Regions from separate parts of the Homo sapiens genome. Here region 2 is linked to region 1. The links come from fine-mapping of genetic effects on gene expression. A gene starts in region 1. The other region holds a variant in brackets. All regions are shown on one strand. Distances are from middle to middle. Region 1 holds the start of MMP2-AS1 (MMP2 antisense RNA 1). Region 2 overlaps MMP2-AS1 (MMP2 antisense RNA 1).

Region 1 (5,000 bases):
ACTTTGGGAGGCCAAGGCAGATGGATCACTTGAGGCCAGGAGTTTGAGATCAGTCTGGCCAACATGGTGAACCTCTGTCTCTACTAAAACATCAAAAATTAGCTGGGTGTGGTGGCACACACCTGCAATCCCAGATACTCAAGAGTCTGAGGCAGGAGAATCACTTGAACCCGGGAAGCAGAGGTTGCAGTGAGCCGAGATTACACCACTGCACTCCAGCCTGGCAATACAGCGAGACTCAGTCTCAAAAAAAAAAAAAAAAAAAAAAAGCAGCTCTATGTGACTCCCTCCCTCCCCCTACAAAAAAATAGAGGGTTCAGAGACTCAGTCAACAGCATTTCTGGTTCAACAAGCATCAAAACTAGCTGAGTTCTAGGTCACTGGGGTGGGGCAGAGGAGAGGTCTAAGGACATTTCACACCCTGACACCAGTCTGTCCTTTTCTTGGGGGTTATTTCCAACCACAGACTCCTTTGCAGCCTCAGAATCCCCGAAAGCAGCTCTCCCAGGCCCCACCCAGCTTCCCTCCTGCAGTGCTTATGCCCAGTTCATGCACCAGTCTCCAATCCAGCCATCTCCTCTCACCCCTGGCCCTCAGCTTCATTTGCCTGGGCCTGTGACACCCAAGGTCTTGGAACCCTATTAGGTTGGTGCAAAGGTAATTGTGGTTTTACCATTGAGTAAAACCACATTTACTTTTGCACCAATGTAATAGATGCTGAAAAAACGGCCTTGTTTGGGAGCTCAGGAAAGCAGCTGGCTGAATTCAGAGAGACAGGACTGACTGGGATCCCCACAATCCTCACTCTCCTGGGGAATGGCCCCTCCGAAAAGCACCCTGCAGCCCCCGGGCTGATTTCATTGGGATATGCAGGAAGCCAACCGCTCCTGCTCACAACAACTACTCAGCACTGACTGTGTTTCAGACACCATCCTCAGCATCAGATGAGCAAAATCTAACACTCTCAGATGCCATCTGAGGTGGGCTTACTGAATATCACCCTTGGAAAGATGTGGAATTGTAAAAGAAGAAAAAAGGACCTCCCTTTGCTAGAGTGGGATCTTATTTCCGGCAGCCAAAGAGGCCAGGGCTGAAAAACGCCCAAATGGCCTCTGAAGCAAAATCTCACGATGAAACAAGCCTCAAAAAGCATTTACTAGCATTTCTGGTCATGGCTGTTACGGATGAAATGGTGCCTCACCTTCTGCACCCCCTCTGGCCCCCACACCTTCTATGTTCCTATCTCAGGGATTCTCCACAGGGACCTGGAAGGACAGCTGAGTGGACCGAGAGATCACACGGAGCCACTGTGAGGGGTCAGGGGATAGGGAGAGTGAGCTGCCCAGGGTGGCTGCAGAGAGGGGAGCTTGGGGAACAGAGACCGCAGGGAGAAAGAGCTGAGTGCAGCCTGAGCCCGTGATTTTCAAGCCCCGCCGCTGGCCTCCTAGGGTTCTTGTAATCATACTCCGACTCCCTTCTCCTTAGTTAGTCTAAGGGGGCTTCTGTTTCTTGCTCCCAACTGCTGCCTCACTAAGATAGACTCATTTTCAGATCTCTCTACGGATTGTAGCCTTTCCTGCAATTCCTGCCTGGATGGCTGCTCCTCCAGGCCTGGACTGGATGGAAGGTTCCAAGCGAGAACCTGCAGCATTTCTGCTTCTGCGGCATCATCCACCTCTGAGAACCACTCCAGAGGACAAGCTGAGGAGCCTTCCAAGAGCTCCATGTGTCTGTAAATGCCTTCAAAACCTGGTCTCAGTGCATCCTTTTTGCACCCACAGCCAGATAGCTGACCACACAACATCAGGATAGAGTGGTCACCACCCATTTTCTGTCATGGGAAAGGAAATTGCCCGGGAAAGGCCTTGCCCAGTGCAGACATGGCAGGCAATGCTGAGAGCTACAAAATCCTTCTAGAAGCTGTTGTCTTTCAGTTATTAAGACTATAAGGGCTGGGCATGGTGGCTCACACCTGTAATCCCAGCACTTTGGGAGGCTGAGGTGGGTGGATCACAAGGTCAGGAGTTTGAGACCAGCCTGGCCAACATGGCAAAACCCTGTCTCTGCTAAAAATACAAAAAAAAAAAAAATGCGCATGCCTGTAATCCCAGTTACTTGGGAGACTGAGGCAGGAGAATCGCTTGAACCTGGGAGGTGGAGGTTGCAGTGAGCCGAGATCACGCCACTGCACTCCAGACTGGATGACAAAGCAAGACTCCATCACGGAAAAAAAAAAAAAAAAAAAGAAGGCAGGCTGCCTAGCTTAGCTTTGCCATGACTAATCTACTTACCAGCTAAGCAACATTTGTGCAAGCTATTTCACCTCTGTGTGCCTCAGTTTCTTCATCTATAAAATAGAGATAATCATTTTACACCCCTCAATAAATGTCTTTTGAATCAATTAATGAATACTTGTAAAACACCTGGCATATTGTAAGCCCTTGTTAAATGTAAACTTTAAATGTTAAATGGTTTCTTTCTTTCTTTCTTTCTTTCTTTCTTTCTTTCTTTCTTTCTTTCTTTCTTTTCCTGTTTCTGTTCTCTCTCTCTCTCTTTCCCTCTTTCTCTCTTTCTCTCTTGGAAGGTCTCACTCTGTTGCCCAGGCTGGAGAGCAGTAGTGCAATCATGGCTCACTGCCTACAACCCCACCGTAAGTCCCTCTGGGATTCCATGATAGAGGTACTTATTCCAATTAGGGTCAAGCTGGAGGAAGAGGCGGCTGTGGCCTAGCTGTCAATTCCTCAGGGCTGGTCATTGGGGAGGAAGGGCAGGAACCAGCTGAGTTCACTGAGAGTTGGAACAGGAGACGCAGAAAGGTACAGATTTGGAAACTGACCTGGGTATCACAGTTAGGGCTCCAGGGCACTCCAGCCTGCGGTGGGAGTTTGTAGGTGTCTAAGCTGTGGCTGGGAGGGCAGTGGAAGAAAGTCAAGCTGTGCCAATTTTCCTATTTGAAGAGAAAGGGAGCAGGGGAACCAGAGTTCTAGGTGACACCATCGGGAAGACAAGCTGTGTCCTCAGCCCGGCCTGGGGGGAGGACTGGGTTGCAACTTACAGGAAAGAGGATTGACTGGATTCTTAGAAAAACAAGAGCCAAGGCTTGTTGCTGTGCAGAGGGATTGGGGTCACCAGCTGGCTGTTGTTACCGTGACTGATTCCTGATGCTTCGGAATTCAAGGGCAGGAGGCACTTGGGGCACTGGCTGAACCTTGGCTCCCTGACCCCTCCTCAGTCCCCTTCCTGGGCTCCACAACATATAAGATGAACGTTCTGATTGTCTATTTCTCCTCCCTTCTCGTTTTACTCTTCATTTGGTGGAGTGTATGGTAGGGATAAAATCTTAGAGATGTTTATCTGAGCCATAGAGAGACCTTATTGGGGGTGCATGGGAAATACACAAGTAATCCCAAGCTCACCTTGCCTGGGTGCCTGCGGAGGGCAATTGTGCATTAGCGGTAGAGTGTGGTGGGGACCTGGGCCTGGGTGGGCAGGGGAGAGCTTCTGGACAGGGGCTGGTGGATTAAGGTCATGCCCATAGGTGGGAAGCCACCCACACAGAATCACAGCATCTCAGAAGGGCAGTGCCAGAAAAATCCCCAGGGACCTCATTTTCCTTGGAACACAACCCAATTCCTTGGCTTGGCCAACCAGGCCTAGCGCATCTGGGCCCAACTTCATCTGCCTTCATTCCTCCACTGCATCAGTAGGGTCATTTGGGTGTAGGCCACAGAAGTAAACTCTGGCAACATAAGCGAAGGGGGATTTGTTAGAATAGGATAAGGGAGCCAGGCAACTGGAGCAGACATCAAGGTGGGAACACCAGGCCTCAGGGTCCCGCAGTTGCTGTGCCTGGGCTGCCATTGTTCCATCTGTATCTATGTCACGCGAGGTCATATGAGTGGGCCGGGCACGGTGGCTCACGTCTGTCATCCCAGCACTTTCAGGTGGATCACCTGAGGTCAGGAGTTCGAGACCAGCCTGGCCAACATGGTGAAACCCTGTCTCTACCAAAAATATAAAAATTTGCCAAGCCTGGTGGTGGGCATCTGTAATCCCAGCTACTCAGGAGGCTGAGGCAAGCTAATTGCTTCAACCCAGGAGGCAGAGGTTGCAGTGAGTCGAGGTCATGCCATTGCACTCCAGCCTGGGTGACAAGAGTGAAACTCTGTCTCAAAAAAAAAAAAAAAAAAAAAAAACCATATGAGTGTCCCATTGGCTCAGCCTAGATTACAGCCCCACCCTGGCAGGGTAGTAGGAGGAAGGCTTAGAACTGTCTTGGCTTCTGAAGAGGGCAGGACAGTAACCCAATCCACCTTCCCAGAAACACTGTCCTCAGTGGGGAGGAGGGACAACTCCCAAGGAGATGGGGACACATGCTCGCCAACCAAACCCACAAAAGCTCATTGTGCCTGTCGCTCTGCTCCAGCCACAGTGGCCTTCTTCTGTTCTTCAAATACAAAAAAGCTTGTTCCCACCCCAGGGCCTTTGCACTTGCCATCTGCTCTACCTGGAACACTCTTCCCCTTGTTCTGCATGTGACTGCTTCATTTTCCTCCTTCAGGACTCACACCTAACAAGGGCCTCCAAGAGGCCCTCCCTGACGACCCATTCTCAAGTTGCCCTCATCAGATAATCTTGACCTCATCCCTCCCAGGTCTCCTAGCCATCTAAAATTACCTTGTGTATGAGTCTGTTTGCTCTGTATTGCCTGTCTCCCCACTGGAATGCAAACGCCACAAGAGCAATGACTGCGGTTAATTGCTGCTATATATCCAGCACTCAGCACAGGGCTTAATAAGCATTTACCAGGCAAATAAACATATAGAGACAGAGAGCCCCAGAGGGACGGTGCTTTGGCCGAGGATGCCCAGAGAAAATACTGATGTCATTGAGGGTGCAGAAGCCAAATCTTGCTTGCTCCGGGGGCACTGGATGGCACCAGCCTAAGAGTGTGGGCACCAGAGCAGATTGCCTGGGTCAACACTCACTCTCTGTGTAAC
Region 2 (5,520 bases), 32 kb before region 1:
GCCCATTGACTAGAATACGGTTAAGTCACATGATCACATTTAACTGCCAAAAAACCTGGGGCAATGTAGTGTTTATTCCAGGCAGCCAAGGATCCACTTAAAAGCTAAGGGTGTTTCTTATGAAGGAAGAACTGAAAATACATATTAAGGGACAACAAGCACATAGATTGAGGGAGCCAACCAGGAACATCAGGAGCCTCAGAGAGTCCCTCGAGAGACGAGCTCACATGGTGTGCTGGTATTTATTGCTACATAACAGCTTACCCCTAAATTTGGCAGCCTGAAACAGCAAACATGTTATCTCGTGCAATTTCTGAGGTCAGGGGTCTAGAAGCAGCAGAGCTGGGTGGTGCTTGCTCTCTAGAAAGGCTGCAGTCAAGCTGTCTGCTGAAGCTGAAGTCATCTTAAGCTCAATTGGGGCTAGAAAATCCACTTCCAAACTGACCTCACAGGGTTGTTGCTGGAGGCTTCAGTTCGTTGTCTTGTGGGCCTCTCCATTGGGCTGCTCACAACATAGTAGTTTGCTTTCCTCAGAGCAAGAGATCCAAGGAAGAGAAGAAGGAAAAGAGGAGAGAGAGAGAGAGAGAGAGAGAGAGAGAGAGAGAGAGAGAGAAAGTCATCTAAAATGGAAGCCACAGTCTTTTCTAACCCTTCTGAGAAGAGACACGTCCTCTCATCTGCTGTTTTCTTTTTGGCCACAGAGCCCAATCCTGGCACAATGTGGAGGAGGATATGAATCCCAGGAGGCAGGGATGACTGCAGGCATCTTGGAGGCTGACTACCAACCATGGATAGGTAAATGAGTGCCAGGAGTTAGGAGATCACACCTCGGTAGAGAGAGTTCCTTGAGCCAGGAAGACTATGCACAGGCTCAGGAAGGCTGGCTGGGCCTAAACAGAAGTGGGTCAAAGGTTAAGGAGTATGTCTCAGTCTATTTGGGCTGCCATAGCAAAATGCCATAGACTGGGTAACTCATAAATAGCAGAAACTGATTCCTCACAGTTCTGGAGGCTGGGAAGTCCAAGATCAAGTTACTGGCAGATTGGGTGTCTGGTGGGGGTCCATTCCTCATAGATGGCATCTTCTTGCTGAGTACTCAACATGACAGAAGGGGTGAACAAGCTCCCTGAGGTCTCTTTTATATGGGTACTAATCCCATCCATAAAGGCTCTGCCTTCAAGACCTCGTCACCTCCCAAAGGCCTCACCTCCTCATTTCATCACACTGGGGATGAGGTTTCAACCACTAATTTTTGGTGGGAGGAGACAAATATTTAGACCTTAGCAAAGTACAACAAAATGTTCCTGTGGTTGCTTTCTGATATTCACCCAATCACCCTGAAGGGACAAACCTTTCTACCACTTCAAAGAGGGAGACAATCTTACTAGCATGTAATAATCAGCACTGTTACCCACAGCTCAAGCCCTCACCCTAGAAACAAAGCCAAGACCACTAAGTGGGTAGGTGTCCTGGCTAAGTGTGGACACAGGGCACAATCAGAGATGTGAACACACAAAGAGCTTCACCAGCTTCTCACAGACCCTGCTTGCCTTTCGAAGTGATGAATACACATGGCCTGGTCATTCCAGAGACTAATAAGACCCCTCTGGCCCATTACCTGAAACTGGGGACCCAATACCATGCAGATGGACTGAGTCATTACAAAGGCAATTAAATGCCCAACTCCATAGCCAGGTGCCAACATGTAGGCTTTTGTGCATGGATAACTTAGTTCTTTCAGGAGGGGAAGAATCTTTAGTCTTATTTTCTCTCAAGCCTGGGGTTAATTGGGAAGCCAGCTTCGGTGACTAGTACACAGAGGCTAATTTGTACAACCATTGCTCACAAGTGGGTGGGGGGGATGACGGCAAAAAAAAATAAAAATACAACATTGCTGGAGACAGTCTGCCATTGAATTGGATCTTAATATTCTAGTCCATGAACCAGCGGTTGCACTAGAGCTTGGTTAAAAAAAAAAAAAAAGCAGGAAAAACCCACACACATTCTTTCAATTTCTAAAGGGAAATTTGACTCGGGCTGTAGAACAAAGGACGAAGAAATAGAAGTAAAAGAAAATCAAAGAAAAAGTTATTTGGATTCAAGGGGATCAGATGTTTCATTTATTGCAGGTTGGAGACCTTCAATCAGCCAAATGAAAGGAACATTTGTATTAAAATACCTATGAGGCAGAGAGAAAGCCTTGATCGGGTGCAGCAGAGTTAAGTTACAGCAAT[C/T]GTGCTGAGAGATATGAACCCACCTTCGAGGTTATCTGTTCCCAATATTGAAGGTTTTCTGTGTTACAAACCTGAGATGAAAGGTAGTTGTTTTGACGTCTGGGTCTGGAAGGCAGACGCTGAAATTAGCAGCATTCTTGATGTGTGTGCAGCAGGAACATGGAGCCCGGGATGGGGTGAAAATGTAGCTGCTTTATTAAAAGGAAACGATGTTAATGCAACACTAAGTGCCCAAGTCACCCATGAGGGTAGGGTGTAGATGGGGATTACAAAAACACCTTCTGAGAAGGGGCAGAGAAGGAGCACTGCACTAGGGGTCTGGGACCAAAGGTATAGCCCCTCCTCTGACCCTGGGTTGGTAGCTCCAAAATAGCTGGGACTTAGCCTGTCTAGTTCACAGTGCCAGGCATATAGGAGGTGTTTGATATATGTCAAACAAATGCATGAATGAATAAATGAATATGAACTTGGGCCTCTTTGGACCTAAGTCTTACAAAATAAGGAGCTGGGACTAACTATGGATTTCTCCAGTGGGATGAATACCACTGATGGTTGGGCAGCACATGGATGGGTTTGGGTGACATGCAAAGACATGGTATTAAACAGTACTAACTCAGAGAGAGAAAGGTATCACTTCTGGACTCTTTCTAGCCTCTGACTCCCTCTAAGAGAAAGTCTCAATCCAATGCTAACATCTCTTTAACACCTCTGCAATGTTTTCAACCCTCTCTTCATAATGATAAGAGGGGAAGGCCCAGGCTCACATCCTCAGCAGGCATCAGCATCCAACTCCATTTCATAACTTGATTTATTTCCTTTGTACTTAATTTCACAGTTGCCTTTCTATGTATGGCAAGTGATAGTTTTTCCTTGGCAGAACTGATCTTTTTAGGGTTTCTTTGTCAGACAGATGTTTCTAAGTAAGCACGAATTGATGTAAAGCCACCATTAAGGAAATAACAGCTCAAGTGGGATGCAGACAAGGAAAATATCATGATGATGAGAGATGGTTTGGAAAAAAAAAAAAAGAAATTGTCCCAGCTGACCTTGAAGGTCTCTTCTGGAAACACTGAGCATCTGAAGTCTAGGACTCCACTCTTCTGGTTTATGTAGAGCAAATCCAGCAGTCTCTAGCAAAGAGGTGACTGCAATCCGAACCTTTGGAAGATGGGCCTATTCATGTATCCATTTATTCATTCTCTCAATAAGTATTTATCAAGAGCATATTATATGTGCACTGCTGTTCCAGGCACTGGGATAGTAGTGAAAGAAAAATAGGGAAAAAGTCTCTGCCCTCATGGAGTTTCTGTTTTAGTGGTTTGAGGCAAGACAGGGACCAGGGCAGGTAAATGAGGCACTGAGGGTGTGTAATGTAAGGAGGCACCTGGTCTCAGGACTGCGCATGACCTTGACCTGACTTGAGACGAGTTTCCCATCCTGACCGTAACCTGGCATAGTTGTCATCATTCTGGGGGCCACAAATCCTGTCCCTGGAGGGTCTGGTGTAATTGCTCTTTGGTGGGTCCCCAGACTAGTATCTGGGGAGAGCAACAAAGATTATTCCCATCCACTTCCAGGATTGAGAACCACTGACATGGACCAAGAAACCTTCAAATTTTTTGATTTGGCACTTTTCAAAGGCATCAACCTTCTTAGTCACTAAGTCGATCTTCACTTACCAAATAAATTAACTAATGAGTGAGTTGGTATGTTGTCACTCACCATAATGACAAAAATACTCCTGTCCTCTGCCTCCTTACCAGGTGTCAGGTAATATCATTCACTTTTTTTTTTTTAAATGAAGTCTCGTTCTGTCTCCCATGCTGGAGAACAGTGGCCAGATCTCGGCTCAATGCAACCTCCGCCTCCCAGGTTCAAGTGATGCTCATGTCTCAGCCTTCCAATAGCTGGGATTACAGGTGCGCACCACCACGCCTGGCTAATTTTTGTATTTTTAATAGAGATGGGGTTTCGCCATGTTGGCCAGGCTGGTCTCAAACTCCTGACCTCAAGTGATCCACCTGCCTCAGCCTCCCAAAGTGCTGGGATTATAGGCATGAGCCACTGTGCCCGGCTTCATTCACTCTTTACATTTCTTGTTTCATTCCATCTTCACAATCACCTACAAGATAGGTGTTATTATCATCATCACCCCCTTTTGAAGATGAGGACACTGAAGGAAAGAGAAGTTAAGGAGCTTAACCCCAGCCCAACAAAACTTGCTAACTTTACCCAAGCTAACTTAGCCAAAGAAAACCCAGAAGGGCCATGCTCCTAACCCCTGTGCCCTACTGCTTCTCTATGGGATGAGTCTCAATGCCTGGGGACTTGGTCACAGGAGTTACAGCAAAGAGAGTGCATGTGAAAATGAGTGAAGTAAGGAGTCCTTTGTACCTTAAAGATAGCACATAGGAATAATTGTCACTTCCACCAAAAAATGTGTTCCTTCTCATTCTTCTCCAAACATGAGTCTAATTCTAGGTTCATTTTGCTTCCATGTCTGTTAAAGCCACAGCCATACAACTGTGGTCCTCTATATAAGAAAAAAGCAACAGTGCAAGCATGGTATTACATAACAACACATCCCCTGGTATTGGGGAAGTCTTGGGGCATGGTGGGGAGTGTGGCTAATTGGGAAGAGGAGCCTGTCCAATGTCTCCAGATTTCCTGACTTATCAAAAGAAATAAGAAATTTAGATTTAGTTGAGCCAGGCGCTGTGGCTCACGTCTGTAATCCCAGCACTTTGGGAGGCCAAGGCGGGCAGATCACGAGGTCAGGAGATCAAGACCATCCTGGTTAACATGGTGAAACCCCATCTCCACAAAAATACAAAAAATTAGCCAGGTGTGGTGGCGGGCGCCTATAGTCCCAGCTACTCAGGAGGCTGAGGTAGGAGAATGGCATGAACCCGGGAGGCAGAGCTTGCAGTGAGCCGAGATTGCACCACTGCACTTCAGCCTGGGCGACAGAGCAAGACTCCATCTCAAAAAAAAAAAAAAAAAAGAAATGAAATTTAGATTTAGTTGTGAAATCATTGAATTTCCAAGGGGGCTCTAATTTATAAGTAACTGCATGGGATAAATACATGCTTTGGAAAACCTGAGTGTGAAGTCTTCTGGAAATGACCAAGCTAGAGAAGAAGTCTTAGGAATCTACTCTAAGATCACTGAGTGATCTAGGACAAGCTCTGGGGTTTCTCTGTGCCATGAATCTAAAGCTGTAAAAAGGATATGAAAAATATTATTTATTCATTCTTCAACTTTTAGCAACAACTTCTATATATTA

Evidence for each region. PIP is the estimated chance that this variant, and not a neighbour inherited with it, causes the effect.
Region 2: its variant is fine-mapped to the expression of MMP2-AS1 in liver (GTEx, PIP above 0.99).

The regions. Positions count from the first base shown.
Region 1 is chr16:55,459,339-55,464,338 of GRCh38, forward strand. MMP2-AS1 (MMP2 antisense RNA 1) reads right to left here and starts at 2,959. Exons shown (of 7, transcript NR_147198.1): 1 at 2,837-2,959.
Region 2 is chr16:55,427,056-55,432,575 of GRCh38, forward strand. It overlaps MMP2-AS1 (MMP2 antisense RNA 1), which reads right to left. Exons shown (of 7, transcript NR_147198.1): 5 at 2,306-2,425; 6 at 446-529. Among named protein-coding and RNA genes, the nearest start is that of MMP2-AS1, 32 kb to the right of the region's middle. The variant C/T (reference allele first, on the strand shown) is at 2,235.